Linked DNA regions of Homo sapiens. The protein of the gene in region 2 interacts with the protein of the main gene of each other region in a biochemical or structural test. Each region holds a gene or a part of one and is shown on either strand. Other genes may lie near its edges. The genes, in order: NADK, SRPK2, ADGRG5, HMGA1, PNMA8B, RTF1 and HERC3.

The links.
Region 1: of the proteins of SRPK2 (region 2) and NADK, one has a biochemical effect on the other in vitro, tested with the Homo sapiens proteins (one large-scale study listed by BioGRID).
Region 3: of the proteins of SRPK2 (region 2) and ADGRG5, one has a biochemical effect on the other in vitro, tested with the Homo sapiens proteins (one large-scale study listed by BioGRID and IntAct).
Region 4: of the proteins of SRPK2 (region 2) and HMGA1, one has a biochemical effect on the other in vitro, tested with the Homo sapiens proteins (one large-scale study listed by BioGRID).
Region 5: of the proteins of SRPK2 (region 2) and PNMA8B, one has a biochemical effect on the other in vitro, tested with the Homo sapiens proteins (one large-scale study listed by BioGRID).
Region 6: of the proteins of SRPK2 (region 2) and RTF1, one has a biochemical effect on the other in vitro, tested with the Homo sapiens proteins (one large-scale study listed by BioGRID and IntAct).
Region 7: of the proteins of SRPK2 (region 2) and HERC3, one has a biochemical effect on the other in vitro, tested with the Homo sapiens proteins (one large-scale study listed by BioGRID).

Annotation. Positions count from the first base shown.
Region 1 is NC_000001.11:1,768,315-1,772,292, reverse strand, and holds part of NADK (NAD kinase), read left to right. Parts: intron 1-3,978.
Region 2 is NC_000007.14:105,144,226-105,148,203, reverse strand, and holds part of SRPK2 (SRSF protein kinase 2), read left to right. Parts: intron 1-1,545; coding exon 1,546-1,711; intron 1,712-2,895; coding exon 2,896-2,921; intron 2,922-3,978. UniProt on the Homo sapiens protein: Serine/arginine-rich protein-specific kinase which specifically phosphorylates its substrates at serine residues located in regions rich in arginine/serine dipeptides, known as RS domains and is involved in the phosphorylation of SR splicing factors and the regulation of splicing.
Region 3 is NC_000016.10:57,562,876-57,566,853, forward strand, and holds part of ADGRG5 (adhesion G-protein coupled receptor G5 isoform 1 precursor), read left to right. Parts: intron 1-215; coding exon 216-372; intron 373-972; coding exon 973-1,104; intron 1,105-2,158; coding exon 2,159-2,275; intron 2,276-2,413; exon of another isoform or gene 2,414-3,723; coding exon 3,724-3,876; exon of another isoform or gene 3,877-3,978. UniProt on the Homo sapiens protein: Orphan adhesion G-protein coupled receptor (aGPCR). Ligand binding causes a conformation change that triggers signaling via guanine nucleotide-binding proteins (G proteins) and modulates the activity of downstream effectors, such as adenylate cyclase.
Region 4 is NC_000006.12:34,235,667-34,239,672, reverse strand, and holds the start of HMGA1 (high mobility group protein HMG-I/HMG-Y), read right to left. Parts: upstream 2,801-4,006; 5' UTR 2,792-2,800; coding exon of another isoform or gene 2,710-2,791; exon of another isoform or gene 2,470-2,709; coding exon of another isoform or gene 2,356-2,469; intron 2,259-2,355; coding exon of another isoform or gene 1,293-2,258; intron 883-1,292; exon of another isoform or gene 716-882; intron 1-715. Other genes in the region: translation initiation factor IF-2-like, read right to left, coding at 1,293-2,258, 2,356-2,469, 2,710-2,791, 2,943-3,098, 3,417-3,427. UniProt on the Homo sapiens protein: HMG-I/Y bind preferentially to the minor groove of A+T rich regions in double-stranded DNA. It is suggested that these proteins could function in nucleosome phasing and in the 3'-end processing of mRNA transcripts.
Region 5 is NC_000019.10:46,493,068-46,497,513, forward strand, and holds the start of PNMA8B (paraneoplastic antigen-like protein 8B), read right to left. Parts: upstream 2,801-4,446; 5' UTR 2,399-2,800; coding exon 491-2,398; 3' UTR 1-490.
Region 6 is NC_000015.10:41,423,283-41,427,260, forward strand, and holds part of RTF1 (RNA polymerase-associated protein RTF1 homolog), read left to right. Parts: intron 1-3,978. UniProt on the Homo sapiens protein: Component of the PAF1 complex (PAF1C) which has multiple functions during transcription by RNA polymerase II and is implicated in regulation of development and maintenance of embryonic stem cell pluripotency.
Region 7 is NC_000004.12:88,665,342-88,669,319, forward strand, and holds part of HERC3 (probable E3 ubiquitin-protein ligase HERC3), read left to right. Parts: intron 1-2,035; coding exon 2,036-2,147; intron 2,148-2,550; coding exon 2,551-2,740; intron 2,741-3,978. UniProt on the Homo sapiens protein: E3 ubiquitin-protein ligase which accepts ubiquitin from an E2 ubiquitin-conjugating enzyme in the form of a thioester and then directly transfers the ubiquitin to targeted substrates.

The DNA.
Region 1 (3,978 bases), on a different chromosome or scaffold from region 2:
TACTCAGGAGGCTGAGGTGGGAAGATTGTCTGAGCACAGTAGGTAGAGGCTACAGTGAACCATGATTACATCACTGTACTCCAGCCTGGGGACAGAGTAAGACCCTGCCTAAAACAGGAAAAAAAAAAAAAATTCAGGGTTCCATTAAGTATAAAAGATTTTAAACACCACTAAGACTTTTTCCAGCTGGGTGAGGTGGCTCACGCCTGTAATCCCAACACTTTGGAAGGCCAAGGTGGGAGGATCACTTGAGACCAGGAGTTTGAAACCAGCCTGTGCAACATAGGGAGACCCCATCTCCACCAAAAAAAAAAAAAAATTTCCAGGTGTGGTGGTGCATGCCTGTAATCCCAGCTACTTGGGAGGCTGAAGTGGGAGGATTGCTTGAGCCTGGAAGGTTGAGGCTGCAGTGAGCTGAGATCACACCACTGTACTCCAGCCTGGGCAACAGTGGGAGATCCTGTCTCACAAAAAGACAAAAAAAAAAAAATTTCCAGTGCTTTCTTCTAAAAAGTTTCATAGTTTTAGTCCTCACATTTAGGTCTATAATCCATTCTGAGTTAATATTTGTATGTAGTATGAGGAAGTGGTTGGGCTTCGTTCTTTTAGACGTGGCTGTCCAGTTGTTCAGAACTATTAGGTGAAAAGATGATCCTCCTCATGTTGAATCACCTCAGCACCTGTCAAAAATTCATGGACTGCATGTGTGTGAGGGTCTGTGGCGTCTACCTTTGGGCTGGCCGTCCTGTTTCCTTGATGTGTATGTCCGTCTTGATGCTGCCACGCTGTCTGGTTCCCGTAGTTTTTCAACAAGTCATGAACTTAGCCCTTCGCGTTTGTTCTTGTTCAAAGTTTTTTCAGCTGGTCTAGATACTTTACATTTTCATGTGAATTTTATCAGCTTGTCCTTTCCTTTAGAGAAGCCTGCTTGGCTTTTGATGGTTGTGTTTGGGTAACATTTGCAGATCAATTTGATGAGAACTAAGATCTCAATATTGAGTCCTCCAATCCATGAACATGGTATGTCTCTCCATTTATTTAGGTTTCCTTTCATCTCTGTCAGCAATATTTTGTAGTTTTCAGTGTGCAGTTCTGACATGTCTTTTGCCAAATATATCCCCACATATTTTATATTTTTAATGCTATTATAGATCATATATATGTATATATATTTTAATAAGATATATATTTTTAATAATATATGTGTGTGTGTGTGTATATATATATATATATATATTTTTTTTTTTTTTATAAGATGAAATCTCACTCTTGTTACCAAGGCTGCAGTGCAATCTCGGCTTACTGCAACCTCCACCTCTCAGGTTCAAGTGATTCTCCTGCCTCAGCCTCCCAAATAGCTGGGATTACAGGCATGTGCTACCATGCCTGCCTAATTTTTTATATTTAGTAGAGACAGGGTTTCACCATGTTGGTCAGGCTAGTCACAAACTCCTGACCTCAGGTGATCCCCACCCACCTCGGCCTCCCAGTGTTGGGATTACAGGCGTGAGCCACCACACCCAGCTGTAAATTATATTGTTGTTATTATTATTATTATTTTGAGACAGAGTCTCTCTCTGTCACCCAGGCTGGGGTGCAGTGGTGCGATCTCCGCTCACTGCAAGCTCTGCCTCCTGGGTTCACACCATTCTCCTGCCTCAGCCTCTTGAGTAGCTGGGACTACAGGCACCCGCCACCATGCCCGGCTAATTTTTTGTATTTTTAGTAGAGACAGAGTTTCACCATGTTAGCCAGGATGGTCTCAATTTCCTGTTGTCTATTGCTAGTATATAGAAATACAGGCGATTTTTGTGTATTGAATTTGCCTTCTGAAACCTTGCTAATAAACTCACTTATTTGTTTTTCTACATAGAAATGTCATGTCATCTGCAAGTACAACTTCACTTGTTCCTTTTCTTATTTTGTTTAACAGACCTACATTTCATGCCAAACCTTTTCTGTCACTGTACCTTTTATTTTTTTCTTATGTTATTGCACTGGCTGTGGCCTCTAGTATAGTCCTCAATAGGAGTAGTTATACCAGACATGTTTTTGTAGGTTCTGGTTTTCATTGAATTTTTCATGGTTTTTTTTTCTTTTTTTCTTTTTTCTTTTTATTGAGGCAGAGTCTCACTCTGTCACCCAGGCTGGAGTGAGTGGTGCGATCTCGGCTCACTGCACCCTCCACCTCATAGGTTCCAGCAATTCTCCTGTTCTCCTTCCTCAGCCTCCTGCATAGCTGGAGTTACAGGTGCCCACCACCACTCCAGGCTAATTTTTTTGTTTTTGTTTTTGTTTTTGTTTTTGTTTTTGTTTTTGTTTTGAGTGCTGGGATTACAGGCAAGAGCCACTGCTCCCAGCCCTTTTTTTGTATTTTTAGTAGAGACAGGGTTTCACTGTGTTGGTCAGGCTGGTCTCAAACTCCTGACCTCAAATGATCCACCCACCTCGGCTTCCCAAAATGCTGGGATTACAGGTGTGAGCCACCGTGTCTGGCCGAATTTTTCATGTATTTGAATAAAACACTGGTATGTCTTTTTTCTTTTTTTTTTTTTCTTTTCATTTGAGATGGAGTCTTGCTCTGTCGCCCAGGTTAGAGTGCAGTGGCACGATCTCAGCTCACTGCAGCCTCTGCCTCCCAGGTTCAAGGAATTCTCATGCCTCACCCTCTCCAGCAGCTGGAATTACAGGCACGCGCCACCACACGCGGCTAGTTTGTTTTTTGTTTTTTGTTTTTTTTTTGAGACGGAGTCTCGCTCTGTTGCCCAAGCTGGAGTGCCATGGCGCGATATCGGCTCGCTGCAAGCACCGCCTCCTGGGTTCACGCCATTCTCCTGCCTCAGCCTCCTGAGTAGCTGGGAGTGTAGGCGCCCACCACCACGCCCGGCTAATTGTTTTTTGTATTTTTAGTAGAGACGGGGTTTCGCCATGTTGGCCAGGCTGGTCACAAACATCTGACCTCAGGTGATCTGCCCGCTTCGGCCTTCCAAAGTGCTGGGATTACTGGCGTGAACCACCGCACCCAGCCTGTACTTTTAGTCGAGACAGGGTTTCATCATGTTGGCCAGGCTGGTCTTGAACTCCTGGCCTGAAGTGATCCGCCCACCTTGGTCTCCCAAAGCACTGGGATTACAGGCGTGAGCCACCACATCCCGCCTGGTATGTCTTAAGCTAGGGAGATATTGACCCACTGGGACAGTACTGTCAATTCTCGCTAAACATTAGAATCTTCTGGGGAGCTCTTTTAAAGTGCCGGTGCCTGGGCTGTACCTTCAGGTTCTGATCATTCAGTCTGGAGGGCACGTAGGAATTGGTGTTGTTTGAAGCTCCTAAGGTGATTGTAGAATGCAGCCAGAGAGAGAACCAGCTTTTGGGTATTCAGAGAACCCGTTGGCTTTGACCGTAGCATAGGGCCCACAGTCTTGTGTCCATAGTTCCTGAACTTTCCTTCTGCCCACCTTGCCATCATCTCACATATTTTAGTTGTTTTATTTAGGCTGCTGTAACAAAGTGCCACAGGCATGGGGCAGGGGGCGGGTAAACAACAAAAATGTTTGTTCTCAGAGCTCTGGAGGCCAAGAGTCCAAGGTCAGGGTCCCAGCTAATTTGGTTCATCGTAAAGACTCTCTTTCTCACTGTAATGGCCATCTTCTCTGTGTCCCCACATGGCTTTACTTTTGTGCCCAGTGAGGGTGGGAACAGAGGTGAGGAGAGAGCTCTCTGGTGTTCTGTTTTGTTTTTGAGACAGGGTCTCTATTGCCTAGGCTGGAGTGCAACAGCACAATCACAGTTCACTGCAAAACCTCAAACTCCTGGGCTCATTGATCCTCTTGCCGGAGCCTCCAAGTACCTGGGACTGCAGGCATGCACCACTGTGTCCAACTGTTTTTGTTTTGGTTTTGTTTTTGTTTTTGTTTTGTAGAGACAGAATCCTGCTATGTTGCCCAGGCTGTTCCTGAACTCCTGGCCTCAAGTGAT
Region 2 (3,978 bases):
TCATATCCACTTGGGTGGATAAAGTAAAAAACGATAGTAAGTGTTGTTCAGGGCGAAGAATTGGAACCCTCATACATTGGTGATAGGAATGTAAAATGGTGCAGCCACTGTGGAAGACACTTTGGCAGTTCATCAAAAAGCTAAATATAGAGGCACCATATGACCTAAGTACGGTAACTCCTAGGTATATACCTCCCCTCAAAAAAAGTATGTTCACACAAAAATGTATACACGAGTGTGAATAGCAGTATTATTTTTATAGCCCCTAAAGTGAAAATAACCCAAATGTTCATGAGGTGAAGGGATAAACACAATGTTGTATCTCCATACAGTGGAATACTGTTTGCCAATAAGAATAAGCGAAGTACTAATACATGCTGCACAAGAGTCAAACTTGAAAACATTATGCCAGTTACAAAAAAATACTTTATATGATTCCATTTATAGGAAATGTCCAGAATCAGCAAGTAGATTAGTGGTTGCTAAGGGTTAGAAGGGGTAGGAGAGAGATGGGAAGTGAATGCTGATGAATATGTTGTTTCTTTTTGGAGCAATGAAAATGTTGTCATTTAAATAGTGGTGGTAGTTGCCGTGTGTGGTGGCTCACGCCTGTAATCCCAGTACTTTGGGAGGTCGAGACAGGTGGATCACAAGGTCAGGAGTTCGAGACCACTGGCCAATATGGTAAAACCCCGTCTCTACTAAAAATACAAAAAAAATTAGCCAGGCGTGGTGGCATACGCCTGTAATCCCAGCTGCTTGGGAGGCTGAGGCAGGAGAATTGCTTGAACCTGGGAGGCGGAGGTTGCAGTGAGCCAAGATTGTGCCACTGCACTCCAGCCTGGGTGACAGAGCGAGACTCTGTCTCAAAAAATAAATACATAAAAAATTTAAAAAATAAATAGTAATGATAGTCGCACATCTAAAATCCATTGAATTGTATACCTAAAGGGGTCAATTGTATGATACATGAATTACTAGCCTACTGTTGATCAGAATCCTTAATGATCACATGACCAATTAACATGTATTTTGTATGTGTGTTATATAGCATATTTTTACAACAAAGTAAGCTAGAGAAAAGAATGTTAAGACAATCATAAAGAAGAGAAAATATACTTACTATTCATTAAGTGGATAGATCATATGAAGTAGATGATCATAAAGGTCTTCATCCTCATTATCTTCGCGTTGAGTAGGCTGAGGGGTTGGTCTTGCTGTCTCAGGAGTGGCAGAGGTGGAAGACAATCTGTGTATAAGGGAACCCATGCAGTTCAAACCTGTGTTGTTCAAGGTTCAACTGTATGTAGATGCATTTGCTTCCACGAGCATAAATAATCTCTGAAATTATACACACTGGTTGCTTATGGAAAGGAGAGCTGGATTCCAATGTGGGTAGGCATGGGAGGGAGATTTTTACTAAATATCCTTTTGTGTTTATCAAACTTTGTACCCTGGCATTGTATTACATGTTTTTCAAATAAATAAAAGTTATATAATGAGATATTAATAGCTTATCTTCTCTCTTGATTTTACTATATCCAGGTCCTTCAAGGGTTAGATTACTTACACAGTAAGTGCAAGATCATTCATACTGACATAAAGCCGGAAAATATCTTGATGTGTGTGGATGATGCATATGTGAGAAGAATGGCAGCTGAGGCCACTGAGTGGCAGAAAGCAGGTGCTCCTCCTCCTTCAGGGTCTGCAGGTGAGGGAGCTGAGCCAGCTTCATTTCAGTGTGGGGGCATTGGGAGCTTGCAAAGTTGCAGTTGTTGAAGGTATCTGAATCAAACGTTACACATAAGGAAGATTTTGGAAAAGTTTAATTGCTGGAAATAACTGCACCCTTGAAATGGAAAATGCCCCAGCTACATTATATTTTAATATTGGAAGTATTTACTTTTGTCCCCCTTTAAAAGGCCATTTAAATTTGTAGTTGCTGCTTCATCTATATTTGAACAGTTTTTTCTGTTGCCAGCTTCTCTGCAGAGGAGAACATAGTAACAGCTTTCCTGTAGCTGACCTTTAGTCATCAGAATATTTTTCTGGCTTCAATTTTGTGTACATAAATTCTTGTTGTCCATTTAGCATAGCTATGTCAACCTGAGTTGTATCAACAGATTTGGAGTTAGTTAGAAAAGGCCTGATGGTGGGGGAAGAAGATCAAGTGACCTGAGTATTGGGATATCTTTATTTCTGGGGCGGGGTCGGGGAGGTGGTGCAGTGAAGTGTGGACTGTGCTTCTCACTCTTCGACACCATGATCTGTGCCTTTGTGTGTTGTCAGGCAAGCATGGATACTAAAGGGCTGAGGCTCCTGGGACTGCCTGGGGCTCTCTTCACATCTCCTTTACTGCCATCAGGGTGTTGTTTAGATCATGGACCCAGCCTGTTAAGCTTTTGACCCTGGTGTAGGGGTTTAATCATGTGATTCCTAGACTATTTGCTGCATACCAACTGCAGTATTTGATTTAAATTATAGAAAGCTTGCAAAATAGATTCCAAATATCGATGTACATCTACATTGTTCATTTCATTATATTTTAAACAAATTTGGTTTAATGACTGTGATATGTATTCTTTTCCATTTTCTTAAGTGATCTGTTGGTGCTTGAGCTTGACTGTGTTTGAGATGTATTAGTATTTCATTTTAGATAAATAAGAGAAATGGCTCAGTATGAGTAACTTCTGCTGTGACTTCAGGAGTCACTCATTTGTTTCAGTGGCATAAACTTACTCTAGATCCTTGTGATTAAGAAGCTCTGATTAATAGTTTTTGAAGTTGGATAGCCATTAAAAGACAATAATTATTTCACTTTGCAATTCGAATGACCTACATGAAGGCATGTGTCTGTTTTCTGCTAAATACAGATTTTGTTTGATTTTATTTTAGTGAGTACGGCTCCACAGCAGAAACCTGTAAGTACTTACGCATATTACTTTATATGCACCATGTTAAAAGAGACCGTTTATTATTGAGTTGTTCAAATTATAAAAAAGTTGTGTATTTAAAGGGTAGACACATTTATAAAAGCTGTGTATCCTCAAATAGGTAAGACTTAATGTCTTGTTAATTTTTTTTTTTTTTTTTTTTGAAAACTGAGTTTCACTCTGTTGCTCAGGCTGGAGTGCAAGTGGTGCGATCTCGGCTCACTGCAACCTCCCCCTCCCTGGTTCAAACGATTCTTGTGCCTCAGCCTCCCGAGTAGCTGGGATTACAGGCACCTGCCACCGCACCCAACTAATTTTTGTATTTTTAGTAGAGAGGGGTTTCACCATGTTGGCCAGACTGGTCTCGAACTCTTAACCTCAAGTTATCTGCCTGCCTCGGCCTCCCAAATTTCTGGGATTACAGGTTTGAACCACCACGCCCAGCCTGTCTTGTTAAGTTTTAATGATCTGTGCAGAGTTGGGATAGTTAGAGCCTTTCAAAAATTGTCTTCTTTATGCATTTTCTGGACTATGGTGGCCAAGTTTAGTGAAATGTGAGGTGATGGAGTTGAAGTATTTTTATTTCAAAACCACTTTACATTATTTCTGATTGGCTGCTAAGTTACCTGTTTTTCTGAAGCTGTTGTTCTAATTTTTTCCATGCGGATGTTAAATAAGAAAGAGACTGATCTATTTTGTGGTCCTGTCAAAACACTATGTCCTTATTAGATACTGGGTGTGGTGACTCACGCCTGTAATCCCTGCACTTTGGGAGGCTGAGGCCACTAGATCACTTGAAGTCAGGAATTCAAGACCAGCCTGGCCAACATGGTGAAATCCTGTCTCTACCAAAAATGCAAAAACTAGCTGAGTGTGCTGGTGGACGTCTGTAATCCCGGCTACTCAGGAGGCTAAGGCAGTAGAATCACTTGAGCCCAGGAGGTAACGGTTGCAGTGAGCTGAGATCACGCCACTGCACTCCAGCCTGGGCGACAGAGTGAGACTCCATCTCAAAAAAAAAAAAAAAAATTAGCCGGGTGTGATG
Region 3 (3,978 bases), on a different chromosome or scaffold from region 2:
TAAACTGGGACCTGAACAGGAGTTAATCAAGAGGAGGGGATAGATGGGGTAGGGAGGTAACAGTGTGCCAAGGACACTGTGTGTGCAGTGGTCTGGAGGTGCGTGTGACAGAGGTGTGGGTGGGGAGGCCCTGCCCTCCCAGGCTGTCTACAGCCCCCTCTCACCCTTACCCCACTCCGGGCTCTGGCCTCCCTGGCCATCTCTCTGGGCTGCAGTCAACTCCACCAGCTGGAGCAGATGCTACTGAACACCAGCTTCCCAGGCTACAACCTGACCTTGCAGACACCCACCATCCAGTCTCTGGCCTTCAAGCTGAGCTGTGACTTCTCTGGCCTCTCGCTGACCAGTGCCACTCTGAAGCGGGTGCCCCAGGTCAGAGGCTGCGGGTTGGGGGGTGTGGCCAGCTGCCCCGCCCTAGAAGTCCTCCAGGCATTTAAGGTCTGGACTTTCTTTAGGCTCCACTGTCTTCCTCCCCACACCCCACAGTCCAGGCTCTGCCCTAACTGGCAGTGAGTTGCCTCCTCTGTAAAATGGGGCTCATACTCGCTGTGTGAACTGTGGAAAGGGAGGTGCTTTATTGCCCCTGCAGGGCAGAATCTTCTTCCTGCTTTGGCTGGAGGCTGCCCGCTGCGGGAGGCGCTGTGGGAGAGGCCAGAAACCCTGGCTCCTTTTAGGACCCTGGGGTGATCAGCTGGATCCCTGGCAGGGGCTGGGGCTGGTGCTGGGGCTGGGTGCTGAGGTAGCTCCATCTTCAGGGGTTCAGTGGGTCAGGTAAACATCCAAAACTCAGGAACAGCATGGAGGGAAGGCCTGGGATCTTGGGAAGTTTGGGAGGAGATGCAGCCTGGGGGGAGAAGGTTCTGTGGGTGGAAACCCCAAGGAAGGTTTCACGGGGAGTGGGAGGCAGTGAAGGTGTTGGGGTCAGGTCTCCAGGTCCTGGTTGCCAAACAGCCTGTTTGCGACCCTCTGCAGGCAGGAGGTCAGCATGCCCGGGGTCAGCACGCCATGCAGTTCCCCGCCGAGCTGACCCGGGACGCCTGCAAGACCCGCCCCAGGGAGCTGCGGCTCATCTGTATCTACTTCTCCAACACCCACTTTTTCAAGGTCAGTGTGATGGCGGGCCAAGGAGGGTGGGTGCCGGCCCCTTCTTGGGATCCACTGCAGGTGCCCATGTCACTGCCTGGCCTCTGGGTGACCAGCACTGAGTGAGACCAACCAGCCATCTGTGCAATCCAAGCCAGCAATTGTCCCTCTCTGGGCCTCAGTTTCCCTGCCAACTTTAGCAGAATGGTAGGAAGGTATAATTACAATCTGCAAATAAGACCTAAGAAACCTACGATGTGCCTGTCGGTAGGCGGGAGACAGACAAGAAGGCACTTATTATTCCCTGCCCTCAGATAACTCTCTGTCTTGATGCCTAGACTAAGACCTTACAGATTTTTTTTTTTTTTTTTGGCAGAGTCTCGCTCTGTTGCCCAGGCTGGAGTGCAGTGGCATGATCTCGGCTCACTGCAACCTCTGCCTCCTGGGTTCAAGCAATTCCCCTGCCTCAGCCTCCTGGGATTACAGGCGTGTGCCATCATGCCCAGCTAATTTTCGTATTTTTAGTAGAGACCGGGTTTAACCACGTTGGCCAGGCTGATCTTGAACTCCTGGCCTCAAGTGATCCGCCTGCCTTGGCCTCCCAAAATGCTAGGATTATAGGCGTGAGCCACTGAGCCTGGCCTGATCTTAGAGATTTAATGTCAGCAGAAGGTTGATTATAGCCATAGAGATCCAGAGTGATGGATGAGTCAGGGTGGGGTTGGGGCTCTTCCCAGTGGGCAGTCCAGGGGAGTTTCTGGGGAAGGTGCCTTTCAACCTTGGCTTTGAAAGTGAGTGAGGATAGTGGTGAGGTGGAGGGCGTGAGGCTGGAATGCATTAAACGAATGGGAGGTGGAGCAGGGGGTGGTGAGAGGACAGCTTTCCACAGGGCAGAAACAGCACATGCAAAGGCTGGGAGGCTGGGAAGGCTGGGAGGCTGGGAGGCTGAGAAAGCTTTCACGCTGCACACGTGAAAGTCTTGCTGCTTGTTCTCATCCAGGGAAGCGGAGCTCAGACCTTACCCAGGGCCTCCCCATTTCCCCTCCACTCAGCCCTTCTCCTGCTGCCCTTCCAGGATGAAAACAACTCATCTCTGCTGAATAACTACGTCCTGGGGGCCCAGCTGAGTCATGGGCACGTGAACAACCTCAGGGATCCTGTGAACATCAGCTTCTGGCACAACCAAAGCCTGGTACTGCTGGGGGCGCCCCCGTTTCCACTGCACCCCTGCCCCTCTGTGACTCTCCTGTTGAACACTGGTTTGACTAGACCCAAACCTGTGGAACCATCTTGGAAATCCATCACACTTTGAAAATTCCTGCTCAAGAAATAAGAGAGAGAGAAGTTTTTACTCATGCATTTGTCAGAATTCTTTCAGTTGCAAGTAAGAAAAGACCACTTCAAGCCAGCTTGAGCACAGAGGGAACTGATTGGCACACATCCATGAAATGTCTAGAGGTGATCCACCAGCTTCAGACATAGCTGGATCCAGGGATGGATCTGATGCCCTTGTGGCTCAGTCTCTCTCCGTCTCAGCAATGGTCTCCTGTCTTGGCTGTCCATTCTGTGGCATGATGGATGCTGGAGAGCCAGACTTCCTTTCCCTCTTCCCATCAGGCTCTTCCCCCGACTCCCCACCCACAACCTGCCCCAGTGCAGATCAGGGTCTCAGGATCTTAAAGGTTCAGCTGGGTCACACATGTCCATCCCTGCACCTGTCACTGTGCCCAGGGGGATGGAATGTGTGGATTGGCCAGGCCTGGGTCACACGGCCCAGGGACTGGGGTGAAGGAGTGAGCTCCTAGGGTAAGTGCAGATGCTGATCCTGGAACAGAGACAGGGCTGCTTGTTGGGGGTGGGGGCAGAGTGGGGTGGTTCACAAGCCTCAGTGCCTCCATTTCTGGTTCCTGGCATTCCTGAAAAGCCCGGAGCCTCTGCTTTCTGGCTTCATCTTCCCTTCAGCTTCACCAGGACTGCCCTGCACTCTAAATTTCACCATCATCCTTTCCTTTCAGCTCTGGGCTTTTGCCACTATGGTTCCCTCCACCTGGAATGCCCTTGCCCTACTCGTGTTGAAATCCAACACGTCCTCTAAGGGTTCAGGGCCCCCACCTCCCCTTCTCCCTTTGGGTCAGCTCTGCCTACCCTCCATGGTCTTCCGTGACTACCTGTGTCATTTCCTCCACTTCTCCACCCACGTGGCTTGGCATTAGGGTTGTCTGTGGATGAGTCTCCCCCAACCAGGCGTGGGTCTGAGCACATTGCTGTTCCCCATGGGGAGGAAGGGAAGGGATCAGCTGGTTATGGAGCGCCTACTGTATAAAAGGCCAGAGCTGGACACTCAAGATTCCGTGTTGCCCTTTGTTTTTCCACCATTGTTGTAACATGGGTACGAATGATCCTATTCTGTAGATGACTAAACTGAGGCTCAGAGCAACTTGGTGTCTTGCCTGGGTCACTCTGAGAGCCCACAGTGGAGGTGGGACAGGAATCTGAGACTGTCTGAAGCCAAAGGCCAGCCAGTGCCTGGTAAAATGTTGGCAAATGTGCAGTTGAGTCACCGTTGGCCCCCAGGACTCCCAGACACTGATCTGCAGCCTTTCCTCTGCACCCTATGACTGACCCAGCATCTCCACCCAGGAAGGCTACACCCTGACCTGTGTCTTCTGGAAGGAGGGAGCCAGGAAACAGCCCTGGGGGGGCTGGAGCCCTGAGGGCTGTCGTACAGAGCAGCCCTCCCACTCTCAGGTGCTCTGCCGCTGCAACCACCTCACCTACTTTGCTGTTCTCATGGTATGTATGCATCCTGAGTGGGGCTCAGAGCTACAGAGGGCCCTGTGTCTGTGGCAGAGGAGCAAGGCAAAAGCTGGTGCAAGGGACAGAAAGTCCAACTGA
Region 4 (4,006 bases), on a different chromosome or scaffold from region 2:
AGATGGATGAGACGCCGGAGGCCTAGGCTACACATTTTTCCAGTAACCAATCCCTGCCTGCCATGGTAAGGGGTGGGACAAGCGGCTCCACTTCTGAACCCCTCTCAATCTGTAAGATCAAGGTAATTATAAGGTACCTGCCTGAACTACCTCCTGACTGCTTCAAGGATCAAACTAGGTAATAGTTTAGAAAAACTTAAAATAATAGAAAGAAATCTTCACTCTAACCAAAATAAGAACTAGACCATTTGAAAATGATTTATGGGCCAGGTGAGGTGACTCATGCCTGTAATCCCAGCACTTTGGGATGCCAAAGCAGGAGGACTGCTTGAGGTCAGGAGTTCGAGACCAGCCTGGACAATACGGTGGGACTCCCATGTCTAATTTAAAAGAAAAAAAAAAAAGAAGAAAAAGAGTTTTTACCCCAATGAGAGGAAAAAAACATTTTTGCAAACTTGTGATTTCTAGAGGGCCCAGGACCTCCATTTTCAAGCATCAAGAGACCCTCCAGACAGCAGGACTTTGGTAATTATTCTATCTTATAATGTTTCAGACTTGGAGACCCTTTTAAACAAGGTGGTTGGTGATTTATCCTGCTCCGTCATTAGTGGCTTGGCCTGCTCTGCAATTACAGGCAGTGATTAGAATCTTATATTACACCACAGGTCCCCCTTCAAACTAAACATCAAAATTAATCAACTAAACGAGTGCTGACCTCATATAAGGTCTGCCTGGGGCCCCCTCATCGAGGGGGTTCCAGTTGGGCGAAGCCAGTCCGGAATCCCAGAGAGCCTGGCCCGGCCTGCCTGGAGATCTTGGCGGGTCTCCCTGGAAGCTCTCATACCATCTGGTGCCTCCCCCCACCTCTTGCTGCTGGGGACCCTTTAATCCCCTCAGCCAACCCCCCACGAACTAAATGAAGGCCCGAGGCCCTTTCCAGTGAGGCCAAGAAACGTTCGTCTTTTCCACCTGTTTCTGAACATCAGAGGCCTGTCTTGGAGGAACTACATTTAGGGCCTAACCCCAATCCCTCACTTTGTAATAAGCCCGCTTGGGCCTCAAGCCTGTCTCCTCCATACACTGTGCATGCAAACTGTGCTCCTCAAATACTTAAGGACTCTGCAGGAAAGGCCCTAGGAAATTATCTTGGGGGTTCCCTTGTTTTCTTCCCCGTCCCCCGTAAAAAAGTAGCCCAGAGAAGCCTTGAGTTGCCTAAGGTCACACAGCAAGTTGGCGAGCAGGAAGAAGTAGGTTCCCGGAGACCCTTTCAACCCGACACTTTGCCTACCCGCCTAGCGGCTAGGGCTAAACCCCCGAGGCATCAGGCTCCAGACCCGGCCCGAGGGTGACTCTGCAAGTGTCTGCGCCCGGCCGTTGCAGGCCGGCCGGCGGGACCCGGGGCCAGGGCGCGCGGGGGGAGGGGCGCAGGCCGCTCCTGCAGGCGCGGGAAAGCAGCGCACCCCGACCGCATGCACCGCCACGCGGGTGCACCCGGCCCCACTTCCTGCCAGAGGGGGCACCCAAGCCCGCCTTGGGGCAGGAAACCTGGCGCGCGCGGGCGCGGGGGAGAGGAAGAAAGCCCCCTCCCTCCGTCCCCTCCCCGCAAAATAAAGCCCCAGAAGAAAATAAAATAGAAACGGGGAGTCAAAGGGACTAGTTCCAACAGAGCCCAGCAAAGCAGCGAAACCAGTTTGTGGGGGCGGAGGGCAGGCCCGGCCCCTGGGGCTGAAGAGGCGCGGGCCAGGCCAGAGGTGGGGTCGGGGTGAAGCCCCAAACCCAGGCCCGCGCTCCGGCCTCATCTGCGGAGGGGGCGCGAGAGAAAGGCCGAGAGGGCGTAGGGCCGAATTTGGGGGTTCCTCCCCATCTCCCTCACTTCCAGAACTTCCCTGAGCTGCGGGGGGCGCCCGACCCCCCACTCTCCTGCCGCGCCGCAGCCCGTGTCTCTCCCCGCCCCTCACCCGGGCCCGGGCTCGGGCTCGGGCTCCGGCTCCAGCGGGAGCGGCCGCCGCGCGAGGTGCGCCGGGCTCCTCCGGGCTCCGCCGGGTGCACAACTCGCGCTCGCCGCAGCTGCGCGCCCCCTCCCCCACCGCGCGCCTTTCCCGGGTCCCCGCCCCCCGCAGGGCGCCCGCGGCGCGGGGGAAGGGGTGCGGGCGTCCTCCCCGCGCCGCCGGGCCCCGCCGCCCGCCCCCGCGCCGCGCGGCCCTCCCCCGCCGCCGGCTCGCGCCGCCCCGGCCTGGGAATAAAGCCGGCGGCGCGCGCTGCAGCCCCGGGCGGCTCGCAGGAGGGGCGACGTGCGGGCGGGGGCGCGGGCGCCCCCCTCCGCCGCCGCCGCCGCGGGCCCCGGGGACGACTCACCGCGAGCTCGGCCGCCGGCCTGCGGTGCGCGCTCCGGGTTGCCGGGAGCGGCGGTGCTGGGCGCTGAGGACCGGCCTGGCTCCGCCGCGGCCGCCGCTGGTAGCAAATGCGGATCTGAAACCGGGAGAGAGCAGAGGCGCTCAGAGACCGCCGCCGCCGCGTGCTCGCCGCCCAGGCCCCCGCGGGGTATTTATGTGTCACAGCCAGGCGGGGGGACAAAAATATTCCCCCTCCCCCGAAGGATGGCGAGGGGCAGGAAGCTGGGCACGGCCCGTGCGCGGCCTCAATAAATAAATAATTTAATTAAATTATAGATATAAAAAAAAGAAGCCACCGGAGCGGCCGCGAACTCACGCCTTCTTGGAGCCGCGCCAGCGCCAGAAATAGCCCCGGCTCGGAGTCCCAATTAGAGGAGCGCAGCACCGGCTCAGGGGAGCTTAAAAAGAGCGACCCAGGGGCAGGGGGGACGGGCCCGCCCGCGCCAGCCGTGTCACTCAGGGGGCGGGGCCATGCAAATGAGCCCGGGGATTTAAAAGGGCGGCCGCCCGCCAGCCGCCGCCGCCGCTGCCGCGCGGGTGGGTGCTGACGGCAGGGAGGGGCGTGTGGGAGGCCTGGGCTGCGAACTCGAGTCGACCGCCCACTCCTCGCAGTCCCGGACGGAGGAGGTGTGGGAAGGCACGCGCAGAGGAGTCACGAAGGAGCTTCTGGCGGGGGGTGGTGACGGGTGGCGGTATCCTTCCTCCCTGGTACAGGGGTCCCAGGGAGAGTCACCTCTAGGGGCTTCCAGGGCGTGTGGGCCCGGCCCCCCCCCCAGGGCGTGTGGGGGTGGACGGGGGTCCACGCGGGCCCAGGGGGTGAAGAGAAACGCGCTCGTTAGAGAATTCCGCGGCCTACACGCCGCCCCCTAACTAAAATAGAGAGATGGTAGATTTCCCCTGGGCGGACAGGTGTCAGCATGTGCCTTTCAGTGTCAACCCGCGTGTGGCTGATTGGTGAGATACAAGTCTTGTGAAATTCAAACGTGAAACTTGTGAAATCCAAAGTGTTTTATTAATGGCCACCAGCGAGCCATGATCAAGGTGGAGCCTTCCAGCGAAACCAACGATTGGCTCGTTGGCAGGTACACCCAAGGGAGGCTTCATACCTTGAGGTGACTTAGATGGTGTTCTGGAGATACGCAGGCCCACTTGGGGACCTGGGCCCTTCCGTTGGGACTGTAAATAAAAATAAAAGGTGGGCCAGAGGTCGCCTGGAAGCGCTTTGAGGGCAGGGGCCGAGCACGCAGGCCATCTCCGCCACGCCTGGCCCGCCCGGCGCCCGGCTTAACAAAGACTTGTTGCACCGAGCGAGAAGGAAGCCAAAGGGGAAGATGGCGGGGAGGGCGGTGGGGGAGGAAAGGGCGCAGGCGGAGCGGCGCGCCCTGCAGGCCGGCCCGGGGCCTTCTCGGGCGCACCTCCCGCGCCCGGTCCCCGAGGCGGCCTTCCACACCTCCTGTGATGCAGGGAATTGAAATGCGCTCCAGTGACACACGGCTGTGACTCATGTTTTTCTCTGCTCCCCTTCTTCCTCCCCGGTCAGCCGAGGCCCTGGCCCAGCCCCCTCCTCAGGGGGCGAGCCGGCGGTGGAGGGGACGCAGGAAAGCCCTGGGCCC
Region 5 (4,446 bases), on a different chromosome or scaffold from region 2:
TTGCGCCCTGACACGCGCTGCGCGGCTGGTGACTGAGCCTCCACCACAGACCCAGGGCCCAGTCAGACTGGGGTAGGGGCGACAGCGGCCTACAGCACCTGCCAGGCGCAGGCCCCGAGAGCGCCACGAAGAGCCCTGCTCGCCTCTGCAGGTGCCCGGCGTCCACACACACACCCCCTCCGGGGGCAACCCGGGCCCCCAATCCTGGTCCACTTGGCGCGTCCCCATCTCGGCCCTGCGCTGCTGCCTCGGGCGCCCACTTCTCTTTCCTCCTCCCATCCGGGCTTCCTCCGTCGGGATCGCTGGCGCCCCCGGCCTGCGAGGGCCCGAGAGGGGAACGTGACGCTGGCAAAACGCGGCCCGGGCGCGCTGTGAAGCGAGGAGATTGCGTCTGCGGAGGACAGGAAGAGGGGAGGGGAGGGCGGGGGCCACAGGCGGGCGGGTGCCCTGCGGGGCCTGCTCGCAGCCTGGGCGGCTTCTTGGGGGGCCACTAGCGGCATTTAGGGGGCAGCCTCCGGCCCCGACGGGCCTTCTTCCCGCGCGCGGCCTTGGATCCAGTGGGCGCCTGGCCCTTGGCCTCGCCTGCCCTGGCATGGGCCCCGGCGCCCGCGCTCCCCTTCTTCTTCCTGCTTCCTGCGGCGTCGTCCTGGGCCGAGCCCCGGCTCCCGGCTTTCTTCTCGGGAGTGACGCCCCGGCCTCGGCCTCGGCCGCCCGCGCGGGTTTTGCGGGCCCCGGAAGCGGTGGGAGGCGCGCCGGCCGGAGTCAGGCCCCTGGGGGCCGTGCGCGCCCTCTTGGCCCGGGGCTTCCTGGATGCCCTGTCCTCCGGCTCCGACGCCTCGCTCTCGGTGTCCTCCGACTCCTCCTCGGACTGTTCGTCCGAAGCCTCCTCCGACCCCTCGTTGGACCCCATGTTCTCCCGGGCGGCCAGGAGCGCCAATACCTCCCCCAGTTTGCCTTTGGGGTATTTGTACTTCCCGCCTTCCCAGGCGTTTTCTTTTTCCTCCTTCATCACCTCCGCCATGTCCTGGGCAGCCAGGAGCGCCACCAGCTCCAGAAGACCCCCTTCGTCCTCACGGTGCTCGCTCCAGCCCCCGAAGAGGCCACGCCCAGCCTTCTTCGCCTGGGGAGGGAGATCCGGCTGCGCCAAGGTGGAAATGCACTCCCGGAGGTCCCCGTCATCCCCGGCCTTGCGCAGGACCACGGCGTCCACCTCGCGGCCCGCCTCTTCCACCTTCACGCGGGTCCCGTTAGTGTCCTTGGACATGACGGACAAGACCTGTCGGAGGGGGTCTCGCTTGTCTTTCTCGTCGCTCCAGCCCAGCGACTCGATAACAGAAGCGATTTTCAACATCTCCTCCCGGGCCCAGGGGTCCGACGGGTCGGTATAGGCCACAATGGCCACGAACTCAGGATTATCCAACTCCTCTGTTTCTTGGTCCCCACTTTCCTGCGAGTCGCTCTCCGAAGTGTCGCTGTCCACCGGCTCCTCGTCCGGGGTGTCTCTCACAGCCAGCAGGGCCACTAAGTCGGGGACACCATTTTTGTCTTCTTTGGTGTTCAAGCGGATGGATTCGGCCCCAGCTGGCTCCTTCTCTGCCTCTTCTTTCTTCGATTTGTCGGTGACGGTGACCAGAGCCAAGAACTCGCGGGGACCGTCTTCTTCCCCCTCGGAGTTGCAGGGCGCCCACTGCCTAACCAGCTCCCTGGCAGCGGCCTGCAGCGTGGCGTACAGCGCGCTCTGGTCCTCTTCTCCGCTCAGGTCGCCCTGGTCGATCTCCTCGATCACGATGCCCAGGCTCTCGTCGGAAGAGTCCTCGGCCTCACTCCTCGCGGGAGCAGACGGCCGTCCTCCTCGGCTTCTCTTCTTGCCCTTCTGGGTCAACCTGTTGCGTCTGGTTCTGTTTCTGCGACCCCGACGGCCCCTCCTTGGGTTCCTGGCTGCCCCAAGAAGCGAGCCAGCCTGCCCTGTTACCTCCCCAGAATCCTGGGCCTGCGTCTCCGAAGCGGGAGGGGTGGGTGCCTCCCCGGGGGTCCCAGCCTCCGCGGCCTGCGTGGGCCCGTCATCCAGCAGCAGGCGTCTCATCTGCCTCAGGACCCTCGTGTCCTGCGCACGGTCCTTCCACAGAACCCTCCAGACCCCATCCTTGCCTGGGATCTCCCTGGGAATGGCAGCGTGATTGACGTCCTCCACAAACTCCACCAGGGCGGCCTGGGCCTTCTCGTTCATCAAAGCCTTCATGTGTCGCAACCTGAACGTGCCCAGGGGCAGGAGGGTCGGCTGCAGGACGGCTTCGACGTCTGCCTGCTCCAGGCCCTCCGGGATGCCGGTGACCAGCAGGGCCCTGTGCGCGTCCACGTCCAGGCTCCGGCACCAGTCCTGCAAAAGGCTCATGGCCATGGTGCAGCCCCCTTGGCGCTGATCTTGGGGCAGCAGGGAGCCCGAGATAGGGGTGGGCTGCAGCGCACGGTGTCAATGCAACCCTAGAAAGCCACTTGCAGGGCTTAGAGTCCCGGTTCCGGTGAATGTGGCAAGGCTGGAGTGGGGCTCGGGGCTCGGGGGCTCTAGCTGCCTGCTGGCCGGCTGGACGCAGTGACCTTCCCCCGGGACCCCTCTCCAGAGCTGTCTGAGGATCCGCGGGGGGCTTACGTGTCTGCTTTCCAGGACAGCTCCCTCCCTCTCTCCCTGACACAGGCCTGAGTGACTCGGCACCGCAGCCAGGTGCAGGGGGGCGGCGCCGAGTGCACCTGGAGAGGCGTGGGAGGTAGCAGCCGCAGCTTGCCTGGCGCTCGCGCCGCGTCTGAGCGCGCACCCTGGGCCTGAATCTCAGCAGTTCCGCTGCGACGCGGCTGCTCGCGCGTGCGCCTGCGCAGAGGGAGCCGCACACCCTCCCCTGTCCCCCGCCCAACCGTCTCCATGGCAACGGTGCAGCCTTGAGCTGGGGTCTGCGTCGCTGTGGCCTGAGACGCTTTTCTTAAAGGTCCCGATGACAAGGACTTGGGGCCTGGAAGCACCACTTTCATTAACCAGCAAAAAACAAGGCCGAAACCACAGAGGGCCAGAAATCACTCAAGGATACCCGACCTCATTCAGGGGATAGAGGCCTCCTTCCAGAGGGTACCGGCATCACTGGGGGTTACAATTCCCCCTTCCAGGGGCCAGGTGGAATTCAGGATTATATAGGCCTAAATCAAAGGGCACTGGCCTTGCAGCGTAGGACCAGGACTTACTCGGGATACTGGCCTCATTCACAGTATATGGGTCTCAGTATCAAATAGGGGGGCCCAGGCACCACCTGTGAGCAAGACACCATTCAGGGTATATGGGCCTCACTTGCAGGGTACAGGCCCCACTCGATGGGACCGGCCCTCACTCCCATACACGTTCCTGTATTCTGAACTATGCATGCACAATAAATCCTGTGGTTTTGCACACGCTTTGAGCATATGTATGATTGTGAGACCAGGCATGAATTTTGCAAGAAAGCATTTCCCTTGACTGGGACAGCAGACTGGGGCGTGTGAACGTCAGTCATAGCTACTGTAAACATGCATTTGCTTCTCTGTCCCTTGTTGGCCATGAGGCTGTCCCCTACTCTATATGAATCTGGCTCTGTAGACCAGCTGGTAGGTTTATATCTCAACCATCATCCCTACCTCAAAGGGTTTTGTTTTTTTGTTGTTGTTTGTTTTGGAGATGGAGTCTTGCTCTGTCACTCAGGCTGGAGTGCAATGGCACAATCTTGGTTCACTGCAACTTCCGCCTCCCATGTTCAAGCGGTTCTCCTGCCTCAGCCTCCTGAGTAGCAAGGATGACAGGCCTCCCAAGTAGCTGGGATTATAGGCATACACCATCACGTCTGGCAAGTTTTTGTATTTTTTGTAGAGATGGGTTTTTACCATGTTACCCAGGCTGGTCTCAAACTCCTAACCTCAAGTGATCTGCCCGCCTCAGCCTCTGAAAGTGCTGGGATTACAGGATTACATGGTGAGCCACCATGCCTGGCCTCAAAGGGTTCTCATGAGGATTAAAGGGAATAATCCAGGAAAGCATTTAGAAGAGCAGCTGGCCCACAGCTGGTGCTCCATGAAAGATGGCTAAGAGAAGTATTTGTTGAGAACTTACCATTATAAAAGCATCTGTTTTGTTGGTTTGTTTTTGAGATGGAGTCTTGCTCTGTCGCCCAGGCTGGAGTGCAATGGAGCAATCTCGGCTCACTGCAACCTCCACCACCCGGGTTAAAGCCATTCTCCTGCCTCAGCCTCCCGAGTAACTGGGACTACAGGCATGCACCACCATGCCTGACTAGTTTTTTGTTTGTTTGTTTGTTTGAGAGAGAGTCTCGCACTGTCACTCAGGCTGGAGGGCAGTGGCGTGATCTTGGTTCACTGCAACCTCCGCCTCCCGGCTTCAAACCATTCTCCAGCCTCAGCCTCCCAAGTAGCTGA
Region 6 (3,978 bases), on a different chromosome or scaffold from region 2:
CTTTAATTTGTGTCATGTTGCATCTAGCTTGATGTAATTCGCTTGTTAATTTCACTCTTTTCAAAGAGTGAGTCCCATGGGAGCTCCCTCCCCACCCAGCCCCCACCCAAGATGGAGTCTTGCTCTGTCACCCAGGCTGGAGAGCAATGGCACGCTGGGCTCACTGTAGCCTCCGCCTCTAGGTTCAAGTGATTCTCCTGCCTTAGCCTCCCGAGTAGCTGGGATGACAGGCACGCGCCACCACTCCCGGCTAATTTTACATTTTTATTAGAGATGGGGTTTCTCCATGTTGGTCAGTCTGGTCTCAAACTCCCGACCTCAGATGATCCACCCACCTCGGCCTCCCAAAGTGCTGGGATTACAGGGGTGAGCCACCACGCCCAGCCCTGGGAGCTTTAACAGTGAGGCTTTTAGGAAAAATACAAAACTGATCTTCAGACACAGGTCATATTGGTGTATTTATTTTTATTTATTTATTTATTTATTTTGAGATGGAGTCTCACTTTGTTGCCCAGGCTGGAGTGCAGTGGGACGATCTCAGCTCACTGCCACCTCCGCTTCCCGGGTTCAAGCAATTATCCTGCCTCAGCCTCCCAAGTAGCTGGGATTACAGGTATGCACCACCATGCCCGACTAATTTTTGTATTTTTAGTAGAGATGGGGTTTCACCATGTTGGCCAGGCTGGTCTCAAACTCCTGACCTCAAGTGATCCGCCCTCCTTGGCTTCCCCAGGGTGCTGGGATTTCAGGCATGAGCCACCGCATCCGGCCTGATTGTTCATCGTTCAACAGATGTATTAGACAGCGTTAGACACTAGAGCTATTGGGTGAACAAAATGGAAGCAGTTTCCACCTTCAAGGAGTGTAAAGTGGAATGAGAGAGAGATGAGGTGGGGAGATTGCTCAGAGAGAGTAATTTCCTTACAATTGCACTACAGGCCATGAAGCAAGGACAAGAATACTGTGGAAATATTAACCAGGGACCCTATTCTAGCCTGATGAGAGTGACATTGAAACAGACCTGGAATATGTGTTAAGGAGAAGCAGATTAGAAGACTGAAGAGTAAAGGGAAGAGTGTTGAATGTTCATGGTTGAGGCACCAGCATATATAAAAGAAATGAGACAGGAAGGACCTCGAACCCTTATGAAACTGAAAGAAGCACAGAGTGAGTAACATAAACTAGTTGCATAGTTGGAGAGAGAATAGTACAAATGAAACTGTAGAGGTAGATTCTGTTTTGACCCTTTGAGGATGGAGAAGTCAGTTTACGGACTACACTCAGCAGTAAAAATAAAATTGAATTGATAGAAAACATCAAATGTGTCATACATAGTAAATATAAGTGATGAAATTTGTGTGTCTCATATGTACATGTAGATGTATACTGGGTTGTGAGGTATAATTTATCTTCCTGTGGGCTGCGTTAAAAAGAGAAAAGTTTTTTGGCCAGGCGCAGTGGCTCACGCCTTTAATCCCAGCACTTTGGGAGGCCGAGGTGGGTGGATCATATGAGGCCAGGAGTTCGACCAGGCGGGCCAACATGGCGAAACCCCATCTCTAGTAAAAATACAAAAATTAGCCAAGTGCGGTGGCACACACCTGTAGTCCCAGCCACTGGTGAGGCTGAGGCATGAGAATCCCTTGAACCTAGGAGGCGGAGGTTGCAGTGAGCCGAGATCACCACTGTATTAGCCTGGGTGACAGAGAGACTCCGTCTAAAAAAAACAAAAGAAAAAAAGAAAAAAATTTAAAGCCACTGGAGGGCGTCAGCCTCCCCGGTGGCTGGGACTGCAAGTGTGTGCCACCACACTTGGCTAATTTTTGTTTTTTATTTTTGAGACGGAGTCTCGCTCTTTTGCCCAGGCCGGACTGCAGTGGCGCTGTCTCTGCCACTGCAAGCTTCGCCTCCCGGGTTCATACCATTCTCCTGCCTCAGCCTCCCGAGTAGCTGGGACTATAGGCGCCTGCCACTGTGTCCGGCTAATTTTTTTTTTGTATTTTTAGTAGGCACGGGTTTCACCATGTTAGCCAGGATGGTCTTGATCTCCTGACCTCATGATCTGCCCGCCTCGGCCTCCCAAAGTGTGCTGGGATTACAGGTGTGAGCCACCGCGCCTGGCCAATTTTTGTATTTTTAGTAGAGACTTTGGAGTTTATTCTGAGAGTAATAGGAAGCCATTGAAGGATTTTAAGTTGGAGAAGATTTTCAGATTTGCCTTACCCAGACTATTGTGGAGAGTAATATGGAGGGGGACACTAATGAAGTGGCAGAGAGAGGAGTCCAGATGAGAGATGATGGAGAACATAAGTTCCATTAGAATGGAAGCGCCAGGAGGGTAACCGTATGTGTTCACTATGCTGTCCCTGGCATCTAGAGCAGTGCCTATATGCAGTTGGCACCCAGTCAGTATTTATTAAATGAAGGACTGACTTGGATTGATATGGTTGTTATAGAGATGACAGATAGTGGAATTGGTTGGACATGATGTTCAGTATGTAGAACTAAAAGGCCTTGAAGACTGAGGACTGATTAGATGTTAGGATGAGAAGAGGAGTATTTAGGATTGATGCCAGGCACTGGCATGAGATGGGGAGTGCTGGAGGAGCAGGTTTAGAGGTGAAGATCCTGCATTCAGTCTGGGATATGTGGAGTTCGAAGTGACTATGAGATGTCTAAGTGGAGACATCAAGTAGGTAGTTGAAAATAACACTTGAGGGCCAGGCACAATGGCTCATGCCTGTAATCCCAGCACTTTGGGAGGCTGAGGTGGGAGGATTGCTTGAGCTCAGGAGTTTGAGATCAGCCTAGGCAACATGATGATGAAACCTGATCTCTACAAAAAAAAAAAATTTTTTTTGGAGGTGGAGTCTCGCTCTGTTGCCTAGGCTGGAGTGCAGTGACACCATCTTGGCTCACTGCAACCTCCGCCCTGGGTTCAAGCGATTCTCGTGCCTCAGCCTCCTGAGTAGCTGGGATTACAGGCACATGCCACCATGCCCAGCTAATTTTTTTGATTGTTTGTTTTTATTTTTTTTTTTGGGATAGAGTCTCGCTCTGTCGCCCAGGGTGGAGTGCAGTGGCACGATCTCTGCTCACTGCAACCTCCCCCTCCTGGATTCAAGCGATTCTTCTGCCTCAGCCTCCCGAGTAGCTGGGACTACAGGCGTGCGCCACCATGCCTGACTAATTTTTTGTATTTTTAGTAGAGACAGGGTTTCACCATATTGGCCAGGCTGATCTCGAACTCCAGACGTCATGATCTGCCCACCTCGGCTTCCCGAACTGCTAGGATTACAAGCGTGAGCCACTGTGCCTGGCCATTTTTTTGTATTTTTAGTAGAGATGGGGTTTTTCCATGTTGGCCAGGCTGGTCTCGAACTCCTGACCTCAGGTGATCCACCCCGCCCCCCCCCCCCCCCGCCCCCCCCCCCCGCCGGCCTCCTGAAGTGTTGGGATTACAGGCGTGAGTCTACTGTGCCCAGCCGCTACATATATATGTGTGTGTGTGTGTGTGTGTGTGTGTGTGTGTGTGTGTGTGTGTAATTTTTGTTTGTTTGTTTGTTTGTTTGTTTTTTAGGCAGAGTCTCACTCTGTTGCCCAGGCTGGAGCGCAATGGTGTGATCTCGGCTCACTGCAACCTCCACCTCCCAGGTTCAAGCAATTCTCCTGCCTCAGCCTGCCAAGCAGCTGGGATTACAGGGGCCCACCACCACGCCCAGCTAATTTTTGTATTTTTAGTAGAGATAGGGTTTCACCATGTTGGCCAGGCTGGTCTTGAACTCCTGACCTCGTGATCCACCCACCTTGGCCTCCCAAAGTGCTGGGACTACAGGCATGAGCCACCATGCCTGGTCTACAAATTTTTTTTTTTTTTTTTTTTTTTTGAGACAGAGTCTTGCTCTGTTGCCCAGGCCGGAGTGCAGTGGTGCGATCTCGGCTCACTGCAAGCTCCGCCTCCCGGGTTCACGCCATTCT
Region 7 (3,978 bases), on a different chromosome or scaffold from region 2:
GTCTGAGGCTGAAGGCCTGAGAAATGGGTGGGGGCTGCTGGTGTAAGTATTGGAGTGCAAAGACCACAGAACCTGGAGTTCTGATGTACAAGGGCAGGAGAAGAAGGATGTCCTAGTTCCAGAAGAGAGAAATAATTTGTCTTTGCTCTGCCTTTTTGTTCTGGGCTTTCAGCTGACTGGGCGGTGCCTACCCACACTGAATGAGGATGGATTTTCTTTACTTAGTCACTAATTCAAATGCCAATCTCTTACAGAAAACTGACCCAGACATACCCAGAAATAATACTTTACCAGCTATCTGGGTATTCCTTAATCTAGTCATGTTGACTCCTAAATTCAACCATCACCACCCCCTCCCCACAAATGAGTCCCTAACTGGGTTGCAGGAGGTCACTTCAGAAACTCTCTTTGGTTACATTTAGAGATTATAAAGTCATTTACTTTTATAATTAAGGCAGCTGGGATGAGCTCACACAATTCATTTCATATTTAGTAATTAGTTTTTTCCTCTAGGGAAAGATATTCTGGATTATGCTGATGTTGGCCTTCCAGAACAGGGGTTCTCAACCAGGGTGATTTTGCTCCCCAAAGGACATTTGGCAATTTCTGGTAACATTTTTGGTTGGTACAATGGGGAGGGACTTGCTATTGGCATCCAGTGGGTAGAACCCAGCGATGCTGCTAAACATCCTTCATTCCCACCTGCCCAGCAAAGAATCCTCTGGTCCCAAAAGTCAATAGTACCAAGGTTGAGAAACCCCGTTCTAGATGGATAGCTTTCATGACATTTGGGAAGGGCTCTTGGCCAGACTTGTTAGGTTGTTCATCCTTAGTATCACAGATTTCGTATAGAGTTGTGGGGAAAGCCTTTTATTTTTTTTCAAACTGACATCTGTGTATTTCAGAAAGTCTACTCCTGTAGCGTACATAGGATGCATCTCAGGAAACCAATCAAAATGAAGACCAGATTTACAAAGCAATAAATACGTATAGATAAAACATTTTGTTTTTGTTTTCTCAACAGCATAGCAAAAAGCATATGGAAAATTACATATGGGAAACCAGAATTCATTTCTATATTTTGGGCAGATTTATTTTAAAAACAATAACAACAACAACGAAAGACCCAAAAAACAAAGTACAAGCAATTTATCTTCATTTGAGCATAGGGTTCCGATACATATAATTATGATTTTTAAAAAATGTTAGAAACTCTTATGTTTTCAAAAATTATAACATTGCTGTCAGAGTGTATTAAAATCATCTGAATGTGTCCATTACTCAAAAACAGAAGCCTGCTTTGCAAATAGATAGCTCTTTTGTAAATTAACAAATGTGGTATGTTCAAGAGCAGGATATATGAGATATTCTCTAAGTCTCAAAAATGCTAAGATTTTATTTAAGGTTAAAAAAATGATTTAGTTGCTAGAAAGTTAAAAATAGTGGCAATGAAATTAGTCCTTGGGTGAATGTAATTGTATCCTTTGTGTTAACGATGAGAGACATTAACTTTGCATTTACTATAGATCATTTTTATTTTAAATACTTTGGTAAGAAAGGCTTTCAACAAGGAAGTTCTACTGTCATTTGTTGATGAGTGGACCAGTTTGCACAGGGGACGTTATTTGTACCAAGCCACAGCATCTACATCTAGTTCAATGAGCCACAAAAACAGAAAAAAACCAAAAAACACAAGATGAAATCAGGGAAATAATTATTTGTTTATAAACTTCAAGATAGCCTTAACTTGATATGACAGTCCTTGTACTTTGACTTGAAGGAAAACAGATTTAAAAATTTGAAAATTCTTGTAAAAGGAATTCCAGTGTGGTTTATTCTTTGTGAAAGAATAATATTCTGTATTTTGGGTTTATTATTTTGAGATTTATGCAAAGTGTAGTATTTTTGTGGATCTTATCTGCCAGATCAAATTTAAATCTGATTACTAAGAACACAGTATTTTACTTGTTTATAATTCCTATCAGAGTGTTTGCTTTTTCTTTTATTATATACCTTTTTGATTTTGTTTGTTTAGAATTGATGAACATTTTAAAACGAGTCCCAAAATCCCTGGGATTGACCTGAACTCAACTAGGGTGTTATTTGAGAAGTTAATGAACTCTCAGCACTCCATGATTCTAGAACAGGTATGTTTCTATATTTGTAAAGTGCATTCTTAAAAATGCATTTTTGTATCGATGAATTCAACTTCAAGAGAAAAAGAGTAAGATGAAAAAGTGAAAGTCTCCAAATCTTAATTTTGTAAAGTATTTACTCTGGGAATTAGACCTACCTTTTGCTTTCTTTTGGCTTAAACCTTTCCAAGGCAATGCCCCTCTAGAATATACAGTTTGCACTGGCAGGGATCTTTGGCTTTTCTTTTCATGGATGTGTACTGAGGGCCTAGACCAGTGTCAGGCTCATAGTAGGTTCTCAGTGCATAGTGAATGAATGAGAGTTGAGAGTCTATCAAATAGCTTATGAACTTAGAGAAAGTTAACTAGATCTCAAGTATGTTTGAATTTCTCATTACTCTTTTCCCTCATACAGATTTTGAACAGTTTTGAAAGTTGTCTGATTCCCCAGTTGTCAAGCTCACCACCAGATGTTGAAGCCATGAGAATCTATTTAATACTACCTGAGTTTCCCCTACTCCAGGATTCCAAGTATTATATAACATTGACTATTCCCTTGGCTATGGCCATTCTTCGGCTGGATACAAACCCCAGCAAAGTACTAGGTGAATTTGCTAACCTCGATATCAGTGGTTTTATGGTCATTTGTTTTGTTGGTGTGACTCCTGGCTCTCAGTGGATTGAGATCCAAGAATCTATTTGTTGCCATTTAATATCCTTAACACTTAAAACCTTTTTTTCTTTGCTGTTAATTTTTAGCTAACCCTATTTTCAAGTTGAAAATAAAACCATTATTTAGATTATTTGAAATGACTCATGCCAGAATAATCTTGATTTTATAGTATTCACAAACCTAATTTATTTAACTTGAAACTATTTTTTTCTACCACATTTGCTCAGTACCTCAGTATTACTGTACGTTGGTCTTTCTCCTATGTCTAATTTAGGGGGTGGGAGTGAAGTGAACAGTTTCGGTGATACAGAGGTCTCCAAAACAGGAGAGGAAGAAAATGACCTAGTGTGGACTTACCAAATGTTTGTTTTGTTTTTCTTTTTTAGGACCGTTGAGTCCACACTGATTTTTGCAGGCTCCGGACACTTTGCTGAGATAAAAACCTTCCATTCCTCAGTGATTTGGAGAGTGTCTTTCATGGGAGTAGCACCTGAAATGTTTTTATTACTCAAGTGCAGGAAGTCTATCACCTGGCTTTTTACTTTTTTCCCCCCTGGTAAATTTTGTTAGGTGTCATTGCAGCTCAGTAACTTCTGTGTTCCAGATGGACTGGGATGTTACTTGAGTGTGGTCTCGCCGTGAATAAAGAGATTGTGTTCCTGAAGGTGGAATACTGGCTTTTCTATATTGCCTCCACCTTTGTAGAAGAGATAAAAACAGAAATAATAATGAAAGCACTAGTAAATGTTAGTACTTAATTTTTTTTAAGATCAAAAGCCTTTTGGGGGCACATTTTCTCAGGTGTTCTAGTTGATGTGAAACAGAGAGGTGGCAATATCAGAAGAAATCTTACCTGACTTTCAAGTTTTAGAGTTTTTTCATTTTTATTTTTCCAGGCTGGAAAATACAAAGAGAACATAATTGTTCAATTTTACACTTTATTTTTAACTTCTAATTATTGATATTTAAAAGAATACCCCAAAGTAGAGAGTATGCTACAGGTAGTCACCACACAAATTCAGCAGTTGTCAGTATTTTGCCCATTTTATTTCATCTGTCCCTCGCCCTCACCACCTTTTTATTTTTTGTTGGAGTATTTTAAAGGAAATCTCAGACATACTATTTCATTCTTTAAGTATTTCAGTATGGCTGAGTTTATTTCCAACGAAG